2 separate regions of the Homo sapiens genome follow, and region 2 is linked to region 1. Evidence: fine-mapped expression QTL. A gene starts in region 1. The other region holds a variant in brackets. All regions are shown on one strand. Distances are between the middles of the regions. Region 1 holds the start of PPP1R3B (protein phosphatase 1 regulatory subunit 3B). Region 2 has its middle 29 kb from the start of SNORD3I.

Region 1 (5,000 bases):
AGGCCAGGGAATATGAGTCACCAAAGTTGGCCAAGGGGGAAAAAAAAAGAACCAGAAGTTATGGACATACATTTGAACCATGAGAGCAGGACTCAGGATCTGATACCAGTTGCAGGATAGGAATGAGTGTATGAGTGCTGCTCCCAGGTAGGTATGAATTCTCAAACACTTGCTTCCATAGAGATGCCTCAGAGCTCAGGGATCAGTTTCTCTGGTGAGAGACTGGGCCATGCTTGAGGGTAGATTACAGTGTTCATGGCTAAGACAGGGCAAACCCTAACAGATCATGGAGATAGTTTTGCATAAATGCTTTATCTGTTCCACTCATAACACACCTTCTCAAGACAGCTGGCCAAGGTTAGACGGCCATGGTGATAACTATAGACCTGCACAGAAAATAACCCTATGACCTTCACGGTTTCAGGCAGCTGAACTACTGACTTTCTGGCTGTACCTTTCATAGGGAGGAAATCTTTTTTGTATCAGGGCCACGACATTATCCCCTCCATTCTCTTATTCTCTCTCTCTCTTTCTTCTGGTAAGAAAAGACAAAAAGGCCGGGCGTGGTGGCTCACGCCTGTAATCCCAGCACTTTGGGAGGCCGAGGCGGGCGGATCACGAGATCAGGAGATCGAGACCATCCTGGCGAACACGGTGAAACCCCGTCTCTACTAAAAATACAAAAAAAAAAAATTAGCCGGGCGTGGCGGCGGGCGCCTGTAGTCCCAGCTACTCAGGAGGCCGAGGCAGGAGAATGGCGCGAACCCGGGAGGCGGAGCTTGCAGTGAGCCGAGATGGCGCCACTGCAGTCCAGCCTGGGCGACAGAGCGAAACTACGTCTCAAAAAAAAAAAAAAAAGGCAAAAAAAGGCCGGGCGTGGTGGCTCACGCCTGTAATCCCAGCACTTTGGGAGGCCGAGGCGGGCAGATCACGAGGTCAGGAGATCGACACCATCCTGGCTAACACGGTGAAACCCCGTCTCTACTAAAAATACAAATAAAAATTAGCTGGGCGTGGTGGCGGGCGCCTGTAGTCCCAGCTACTCAGGAGGCCGAGGCAGGAGAATGGCGTGAACCCGGGAGGCGGAGCTTACAATGAGCCAGAGATGGCGCCACTGCACTCCAGCCTGGGCGACAGAGCGACACTCCGTCTCAAAACAAACAAACAAAACCAAACAAACAAAAAAATCAGATGCACAAGCAACCCACCAGGAACACTGAAAGCTGCCGAACTGCATTCAGTAAACATTCACAACCAGGTTATAATTTTCATTTTTAAAGACATGGCCATCTACCTCCCTCCAACAATTCTGTGTTCCCTTCCAAAAGGTTTCACTGATCCAGCATGAAGAGAGTGCATGTCTTTCCCCTTTGTACTCAGACCATGGGGGCCTATTCACAGCCTTAAAGGCTCCTTGTACCCCTTGATCCTGTCCCCATCATCCAAAGCATCTTGGAGACTGACATTTGTGAATACAGTTGCATATTCTAGGAAAGAGGCAAGTTCAAATGACACAGCCCCTGCCGTCTAAAAACGTACGAGGGAAAACAGAGTACTAGGCTAAGAATGCCCGCACCTTGCTTTGCTACTTGAGCGAGTCACTCAGCTGCTCTGGGCTTGAGGTCCCCTCCAAGGTCCCTGCTGGCCCTGACATTGTATGTTGCGACCCACCCCTGGTGCCGCTTCTCTTCCCACTAACTTTTTTTCCTAAATACCTCAACTGTACTTTTGTGTAAGTCCTCCAGCTGTCTTCACTTTAGTTTTGGCTCCTGGACAACTCTGCCCAAGGAAACATTTCCTCCTCTCCTCCTCTTCCTCCCAGACCAAAGCTCTAATTGTCTCTTCTGCTGCACCCTGGGTCTCCCAGGCAGGCCCCCGCCACTCAGACCACAGGTTCCAACACCTTCCAAGTCTCCAAGTTCCCAAGTCCAGTCTTTCCTCTGTTTTCTCCTCTTTTTCAGAAAACAGTGCTCTGACAGGCCCCAAATCTTCCAGTAAGTCATTACCGGCCCCCACTCCCTCTTTTGCAGCTACTGTGCCTTCCACACCCCTTTTTCTGGATTCCAAAGAGACGCAGGAGCAGGCCAGTGCTCTCCAGGCTGGAGGATCCCACAAGTTACTCTCCGACTCTGTCCCCTCCGTCCAGTTTGACCAGGGCTGCACTCCGCCCCCAACCTCCCTACAAGCCTCCTTGGCCTCGCGCCGCACCCACCTTTTGGGCCGCGGAGAAGCCCCCTCCCCAGCTCGCTCGCCGCATCGGAGAGCCCGCAGGGTTGTGGCAAGCGCGACTACGTGAGCGTCGGTGTGTCCGGGAGGCAGGGCCTGGGCTGGGTTCCCGGAGATGTCGGCGGTGGGAGGAAGACGACGAGGAGGAGGAGCCCGTTATCGCACCCGGGCGGGGCCGGCAAAGGGGCAACCCCGGCCGGAGCAAGCAGCGCGACACCAGCACCCCCGCGCGGCCGCCTGGCCTCCGCCAGCCCGGGACGGGGATCGTGCTAGGTCCCGTCGCCCTCGGTGGCCTGAGAGCCTACCAAGTGTATTTCCTCGCGTTTTATAGGGAAAATAAGGCCCGGAGAGAGACGAAGCGGCTTGTCCTTAAGCTCCAAACCCCACTACCCAACTTTGGAGAAGTCTCCAGACCTCTCGGGACCCGGGGCTGGGAACTTGTGCTAGTTTCGAAGCCAGAACAACAGGTGGTAAAGGGATCAGCCGCCGCAGCCGCAGCTCCCGGGTCACGGTCGCAGCCGGGCCCAGCAGCGCGGTGGAGCACGTGGGCCCGGGAGGCGCTTCCCAGCTGCGGTCCCTGGATCGCCCTCTCCACGCTGAAGCAACAGCTCCCTGGGGCCAGCTACCTAGAGTGTTCCAGCCCCGGTGTGCCAGTGCAAGTCGCACGGTGAAAATGTAGGTGACAGGAACCCAAAGAGGTCCCCGCTGCACGCCCTCGCCTTGTTGTCCCCAGCCCTTCCCTCGGACTCGAGACTTGGGGAGCTACGTACCGGGTTCAGCTCATAAGTCCCGAGGGCAGACGCGCCAGCCCGCGGCAGCATACGCCCTGGGGGAACAGGGACAGCTGCCGTGACGGCAGGAGCTGGGCCCGGGCTCGGGTTCGCGCCCCCCGCGGGCGGCGAAGTCCGTCCGTGCACGAGAGCTGCGCGGTCACCTCCTCCCTCCAGCAGTCACCCGGGACTCGAGCTCCCCGCGGCCGCGCTGCCCCCTTTAACTTTCCTGCCAGCTCTCGGGACCCCGGGGTCCATCCCAGGCCCCCTGCCACGTGAACGCCCCCCGCAGCCAATGGGCGCGCCCGGGACTCCAGCCGCCGACCAATGGGCGCGCAGCCACGGCGCTGGGGAGCACCGCTTCGCCACGTGATCGGCAGCGCGCCCGGAGTGATCCGGCTGCGGGCCAGGGTCTGGGAAGGGGGTGGTGGGTCGCCGTTTCATCAGAAGCCGGAGGACGGGCGCCAGGGGGCAACTTCCTACAGGAGGGCGTCCCGTTAGAATGACAGGGCTTTTGCAAAAGTCTGACACCCGTGGCACAGAGCGCCCCAGATATGGAGGGTTTCACAGGTAGGTATACTTCAGAAGAAATTTCCTGACTTGAATCGGTTATAATCGCTATCTAAATCTACAGGGCCTCCGCGATGCATATTATGCACCTTGAGATCTATAGAAAATGGTCTTAGAAAAAGAAAAAAATGATGACCTTAAAGAGTTTGAATCAGAGGCTCTTCCTTTCTTCAGTTTACATGTAACTTGATCTGAACTAGCCACTTTAGGCATGAGGCTACCAGTTTTCTAATTTTAATGACCAGTAGAGTTTTAGAAAAAAATTAGAAATTGATATAGGATTGCCAACTTTTTAAACTGCCAAGAAAGACATGAAAATAAACCCTGCTGTCTTCTATTACTATCCTTTTATTTTTATTTTTTAAAGTACACTTTAATAGCAATAACAACGAAATGCAGGAAGGATGTAATGGCCAGTCTTTCCCATTGGATATATTTAGCTTTCTGAAAACTCATTATGTTGAATATGGCATTTGGGAGTTTCTACTGTAAGGGATACAGGCTCAGCTTCAATTTTACTAGGAATGCAAGCCTAAAACAGTGATCGGTGACAATAATCCAATACAAGCCTTTAGCTCTATAGAGAGCTTCCCCGGAGGGAGTCCTGGTGTCTGAAGAATGATCATTAATCTTCTTCCTTCTTTTCTGATGGGCAGATCTGATAAGGGACCACTTGTGAAGTCAGCTATTGGTAGGTGGTTGGCAAATAGCGTTTCTGTGCAATATTCCCTCTGCCAACTTTAAACCCTCTCTTGTTAGGTGATGAGTAGGTTGAAGATTTTTAAGCCAAGTACTGGCTAAGTTTCTCAGGTGTAGTGAGCATGCTGGAGGAGTGGGCAAAGATGAAGAGCCAAGAGGTATTGCAAAACATATGCAGGCAAAGGGTAATCCGAACCACACCGGGAAAGAGTTGGGACAAGTAAATACAGCTTTGTAGCATTAGGGTTTGGGAGCATTTTTCTTGCATAGATCTAGGAAACCATGGTCAATAATTTCCCCTGTGGTTTAGATGACTTTTTCAGACCAGGAGAGAGGGGTTAAACTTAGTTGTGGTACACCACAGCCTTAGTAGGTAGGAGGGTGTCATCTATGAGTTTGAAAAGAGCACAGTCTTTGCCATCAGGATAGAGCTGAGATGCAAGCTCAGAGGAGGGCTTTACCAGGAGACCCAGCAGTGCAGAGCTCCAGAGCCTGAGAGCTGGACCCACCCTCAGACACGATCTTGCCTCACCCTCTCATTTTATGGCAACAAAGAGAGAAAGTGAAAATGGAAAATTTCAATGCTTACTGCATCAGTCAATGCACACCAAGTTCTTTCTATTATATCTGGCATTGGGTTACAGCTTTAATTTTATTTAACAACCCTCCTCCCCCAACCAAAAAAAAAAAAAAAAATGAAACCAGAAAACAGCAGTGGCTAAGCATAGTAAATTA
Region 2 (5,523 bases), 63 kb before region 1:
CAAGTGATTCTCCTGCTTCAGCCTCCCAAGGAGATGAGATTACAGGCTTATACTTCCATGCCTGGCTAATTTTTGTATTTTTAGTAGGGACAGAGTTTCACCATGTTGGCCAGGCTGGTCTTGAACCCCTGACCTCAAGTAATCACCTGCCTCAGCCTCCCAAAGTGCTGGGATTACAGGCCTGAGCCACCGCGCCCGGCCCTACCATCTTTTTTTATAAATAAATTTTTACTGGAACACAGCCACACTCATTCATTTATGTATTGCCTCTCTCTGCTTGTGTACTAAACTTGTAGAGTGTCGTGGTTGTGATAAAGACTGTAATGGCCCACAAAGCCTACAGTATTTACTATCTGGCCCTTAACAGAGAAAGTTCAGGGCCCCTAATTTAGATTCACTCTAAGTGATGAGACAGTAAAAGTTAGAGGAGGAGTCAATAAGAATTAAACAGGAATATGTGACGCTAATTTATAACAAAGTATAGCTGTTGGGATTGGTGTCCATAAAATGGTGGTCTTTCCTTAGCTGAGGTCTGTGAGACGCAGAACAGCAGGTTTTTTCTAACTTGTTAATGGCAGTCTCCATGCTGAGGACAAATTTAGCAAACTCTTATATGATCAAGATGCTTTTTTTAAAGTGTGTGCATAAGCATGCATGTGTTGGTTTGTGTGTATCTAGAAGATAATCTCTTGAGCAACCAGGAGGAATCACAGAAAAGAGAATTTTATCCTACTATTAGGAAATAACTCCCGTCCTCTTTCAAGTCCTAATTTGTTTGTCTAGACTGCGGCATTTACCATGAATGCTAAAAAAACAGGGATAGCGGGCCAGGTGTGGTGGCTCACACCTATAATCCCAGAACTTTGGGAGGCCAAGGTGGACAAATTGCTTGAGCCCAGGAGTTCAGGACCAGCCTGGACAAGATGGTGAGACCACCAATGCTACAAAAATACCAAAAATTAGCTGGGCATGGTGGCCTGCACCTGTGGTCCCAGCTACTCAGGAGACTGAGGTGGGAGGATAACTTAAGCCCAGGAGTTTGAGACCAGCCTGGGTAATATGGCAAAACCCCGTCTCTACAAAAAATACAAAAACTAGATGGGTGTGGTGATGTGCACATGTAGTCCCAGCTACTCTGGAGGCTGAGGTGGGAGGATCTCTTGAGCCAGGGAGGTCGAGGCTGCAGCAAGCTGAGATCACGCCACGTCACTCCAGCCTGGGTCACAGTGATACCGTCTCAAAACTAGGCAACCGACCAACCAATTCATTCTGTTTGACCCATAGTTTGACTCTTAAGAATGCATTGTAACAAAATAAGTAAGGATGTGTTCAATATTATAGCAAGAAGCCTGTTGGTTTCAGCACTGTTTATAACAGTAAAAAATGAAAAGCAGCCTAAATGTCCTACCTAATCAAAGTGGTTAACTGTGATAAACACACATTATAGAATATTATGTGGCCATTAACATGATGTTGTAAAAACATACATATTGGCTTGGATAAATACTCATACTGTTGACTGAGCAAGAGTGTCAAACCATTATTCTGTATGTTTTCCTGCAATGGACTTACTATTATGTATACCCATTTATATGCCTACATTATAATCTATAAGTGTACACAGGAAAATTCTCAAAATTTTAACTAGTTTTAAACTAGTTAGTGCTGGGCGGTAGGATTCTGAGTAACTTTGACCTCCTTCTCACCTTCTCATCTTATTTTTTTTTTAAGTTTTTTGAATTTTACTTTAAGTTCCAGGATACATGTGCAGAATGTGCAGGTTTGTTACATAGGTTCATGTGTGCCATGGTGGTTTGCTGCACCCACCAACCCATCATCTAGGTTTTAAGCCCCACATGCATCAGGTATTTGTCCTAATGCTCTCCCTCCCCTTGCCCCCCACCTTCATCTTATTTTTATTTATTTTTAAATTATATTTATTATTTATTTATTTTTGAGATGGAGTTTCACTCCTGTTGCCCAGTCTGGAGTGTAGTGGAGCGATCTTGGCTCACTGCAATCTCCGCCTCCCGGGTTGAAGCCATTTTCCTGCCTCAGCCTCCCTAGTAACTGTGGATTACAGGTGCATGTCACCATATGTGGCTATTTTTTTTTTTTTTTTTTTTTTTGATTTTTAGTAGAGACAGGGTTTCAACATGTTGGCCAGGCTGGTCTCGAACTCCTGACCTTAGGCCCACCTCGGCCTCCTAAAGTGCTGGGATTACAGGCTTGAGCCACTGCACCCTGCCCTTATTTTTATTTTGATTTTTATTTTTTATTTTTATACAGTGATCATGTATTCCTTGTGTAATTATATGTGTTTTAATGCACACGCAGATACAGACATCTTAGTTTGGAGATGTAGCAACACATTTCAATAGATAAATTTAGATCCCCTACTTTCTGCTCAAGTTGACATAAATGTCCTCCCCATGCAGCTGGGTGGGAGCATCAGGCCCCACAAGGGTTTGAGGTTCCCTACTTTCACAGAGAGGGAAAGGGGCAGATTCAGGTAGGGACAACACATTAAGGACCCCTTGCTTCTTCCTCATTTCCTGGGTGGGATGGTCAATCACACCAGTATGCCTGGAAGTGAGGGATTTCCCAGGATACAAGACTTTCAGTACAAATAAGGAAAATCCCAGGCAAACTGGGTCCAGTTGATCATCACATTCCTGGCAGATTTAAAAAGAATGGCATATACGCCTACAGGTGCACAGAGCTACATGTGTGACTCACGCTGCGGTATGTGGTTTCATGAGAAGTTACTTATGAAATCATTGCTGATTTCTG[A/T]TCCTCATGGCCAGGAAAGGAGACAAAATCAGCAGGGTTGAGGTCAGTTCAAAAAGGAGGCCTTCTAACCCCGAAGAAAGCAGAATCCATTTCAGGAGATAACACCTTCTCTTCTCTGCATTTAACACCAGTGCATGCATTTGTTCTGTGTCTGAGCCTCTGTAAATTAAAAAAAAAAAAAAATTAAAGTGTTTTCTGAATAATTCAGGTCAAATTAGCCATTCACTGACTCAATTTCCCACTTTCTTTGCTGTTAAACATTGAACTATTTAATGTCGCTGAAATTGCATTTACGGTATTCCGTTAGCTCAAGTTGTGCCCATTCTGCTAAAGCTCTCGACATTCTTATTATCATTAAAGAGAAAGAGGAAAGGACCAGGAGTGGCGACCGGCAAACCACAGCTTGTGTGGGAAGGAAATTTGACATGTGATGCAAGCGGACGTTTGTGTAAACTGCTGGGAGATTAACAGTGAGTATCTCTCTGTGTGTTGCCCATCCACCCATTTATAAGTGGTGGGAGAGATGGCGCAGAGGGGGAGCAATGCCCATTCAGCCAGTGCAAGTTGTGGGCTCAGCTGGCTGCTAGTCAGTCATCCTTTGTTTGAAAGCAGCACACTTCCTTTTCACCAGCTGAGTCAGGAGCTGTTCTCCTGGGTAATTTCAGAGAATCCACCTCATTGCTCACATGCACGTCATTGCCTTTGGATTGTAGCATGCTGGAGGGTTTAACCAGGGAGTTGACAATGAGTGTCTCTGCAGAACAGGCCAAACACATTCCCTGACCAGGTCATGCGGGTGAGTTAATAGGTTCACTACGTGCTCCTCCTACCCTGGAGAGCAGCGTGACGTTAGTTCCTAAGCTGCAGGGTTAGCACGTACAGTGTTATGTGGTGGCCTTGGCTTTAGAGTTAGCCAGACTTAGGGTAGAACTGTGGCTCAACCACTTCCTCACTGTGTGATATTTGGCAAGTTATTCGCCATCACTAAGGCTCGGTTTCCTCAAATAGATTAGGGAAATAACATGGTTCCCGCTTCACTCTCCTCTTTCCTTTTCTTCACTGAGTTTCTCTCACCTGTGCTTCTTTGTTGCCTGTAAAACATATAGGCCAAAGGGAAAGATGATTCTGGCATATTCCAGACCATTCTCACCTTCTTTAATTTATTTAATTTTAAAAATATTTATAAATAGAGATGGGGTCTTGCTGTGTTGCCCAGGCTGGTCTTGAACTACTGGCTTCAAGTGGGCTTCCTGCCTTGGCATCCCAAAGTGCTGGAATTATGGGTGTGAGCTACCACACGCAGCCTGGATCTCTTTCCAGTGGGGAACTTAAGATTCTTCTTCCTTTTCTGAGAATGACTTGGACACAAGGGTTTGCAAAGTATGTTCCATAGACCACTGGTGGTTCACTGTGGTCCCCTAGATGATGCAAACTTCAGAGGGAAGAAAATGCCCTATGAGGAGGAAGCAGAGAGGAGCCCCACTGGCTCTGAGTGGAGACTCCTGGCTCTACCTTCAGAACTCCACTCCTGGTCACCATCAAAGTCCTGCCCGGAGCCCACAGATTCCAATCCTATGCTGTTCTCCCCACCTCTTCTTCACTAGCTGTACAAAATGACGAGGTTTGTGTAGCCGGAGCGATGCCTTGGGTTTTTGTTGTTTCCCACCATTAGGAAAAACAGAGGGATTAGGTGGCAGAGTCCGCTTAGCTTTTCAGTGAAGAAATGAAAGGTGTGGCAGGATGGGTTCAGGTGCATTTTGCTGGTGGGAATGGAAATAAGATTGGGAGGAGGAGGATGTGAATGTGAACAATGAGACAGATTCCCTGAAATTATCCAAGAGAACGGCTCCTGACTCGACCGTTGGCAAAGAGGGTGTGCTACTTGCAAAGCAAGGATGACGGCTGAGATGATATCACATTTGCATTTTTTTGGATTGTCATCAGTCTCATTGTGCCATGTTTCCAATCTGCACGTGTGCGGATGTGCAACCGGGAGACACAGACAGGCACCAAGAGCCAGTAATGAAAATCCCACCTTCTCCTTGTAAGCAAACCTTATCCAAGGACCCAGGACACTTGCTTGACCCAATTATGCAGAAACTCCACTGCTTCTTCCTCCTCCTGATATGCTGTGAGAGAGGAAAGGAAGAGGGGCCGACAGAGAAGGGGTGTGGTGAGCTCAGGTGCATTTTGCTGGTGGGAGGACACCTTGGTGCCAACTTGTTCTGTTTCTCCAGTGATGTAAAAGCCTTTCAAAGTTCTCATTGGTTGACCCAATCATTCTAGTTCTAGGAATCCAGCCAAAGGAAATAATCAGCAATGCAGATGAAGATCTATGTTAAGGGTACTTACTCTAGCTTATTGATTATGGTAAAATATTGGAAAAAAATCTACATGACCAGGAGTGGAAAATGAAGTAGAATACGTTGGAATTACACAGTCTGTGAAGATGATGTTTTAGGAGTATTCGTTTTTAAATGGAAAAAGTTACACATGCACACGGTTAAAAGTTTAAATAGGACAAAAGAGAAGAAATGAGAAAGGAAACTCTCTCTGGGGTCCTCCTCTATAGATAAAACTATGTCCTCAGTTATAGATTGTGCTTTAGAAAAGAAATAGGTGAAACAAGAAAATGGTTTCAAAGTAATAATAAGTGGAGGAAAGACACAAGATCAAAAAACAACAACAACACAATAAAACAATGAACTTTCCAGTATAATTGCAATTTGA

The links.
Region 2: its variant is fine-mapped to the expression of PPP1R3B in whole blood (TOPMed, PIP above 0.99).

What each region holds. Positions count from the first base shown.
Region 1 is chr8:9,148,351-9,153,350 of GRCh38, forward strand. PPP1R3B (protein phosphatase 1 regulatory subunit 3B) reads right to left here and starts at 2,308. Exons shown (of 2, transcript NM_024607.4): 1 at 2,213-2,308. It overlaps PPP1R3B-DT (PPP1R3B divergent transcript), which reads left to right and starts at 3,375. Exons shown (of 5, transcript NR_183348.1): 1 at 3,375-3,566. RefSeq lists enhancers at 1,708-2,656, 2,703-2,942 and silencers at 2,293-2,562, 3,063-3,312.
Region 2 is chr8:9,085,307-9,090,829 of GRCh38, forward strand. It overlaps a transcript of ERI1 not described here. Among named protein-coding and RNA genes, the nearest start is that of SNORD3I, 29 kb to the left of the region's middle. The variant A/T (reference allele first, on the strand shown) is at 2,794.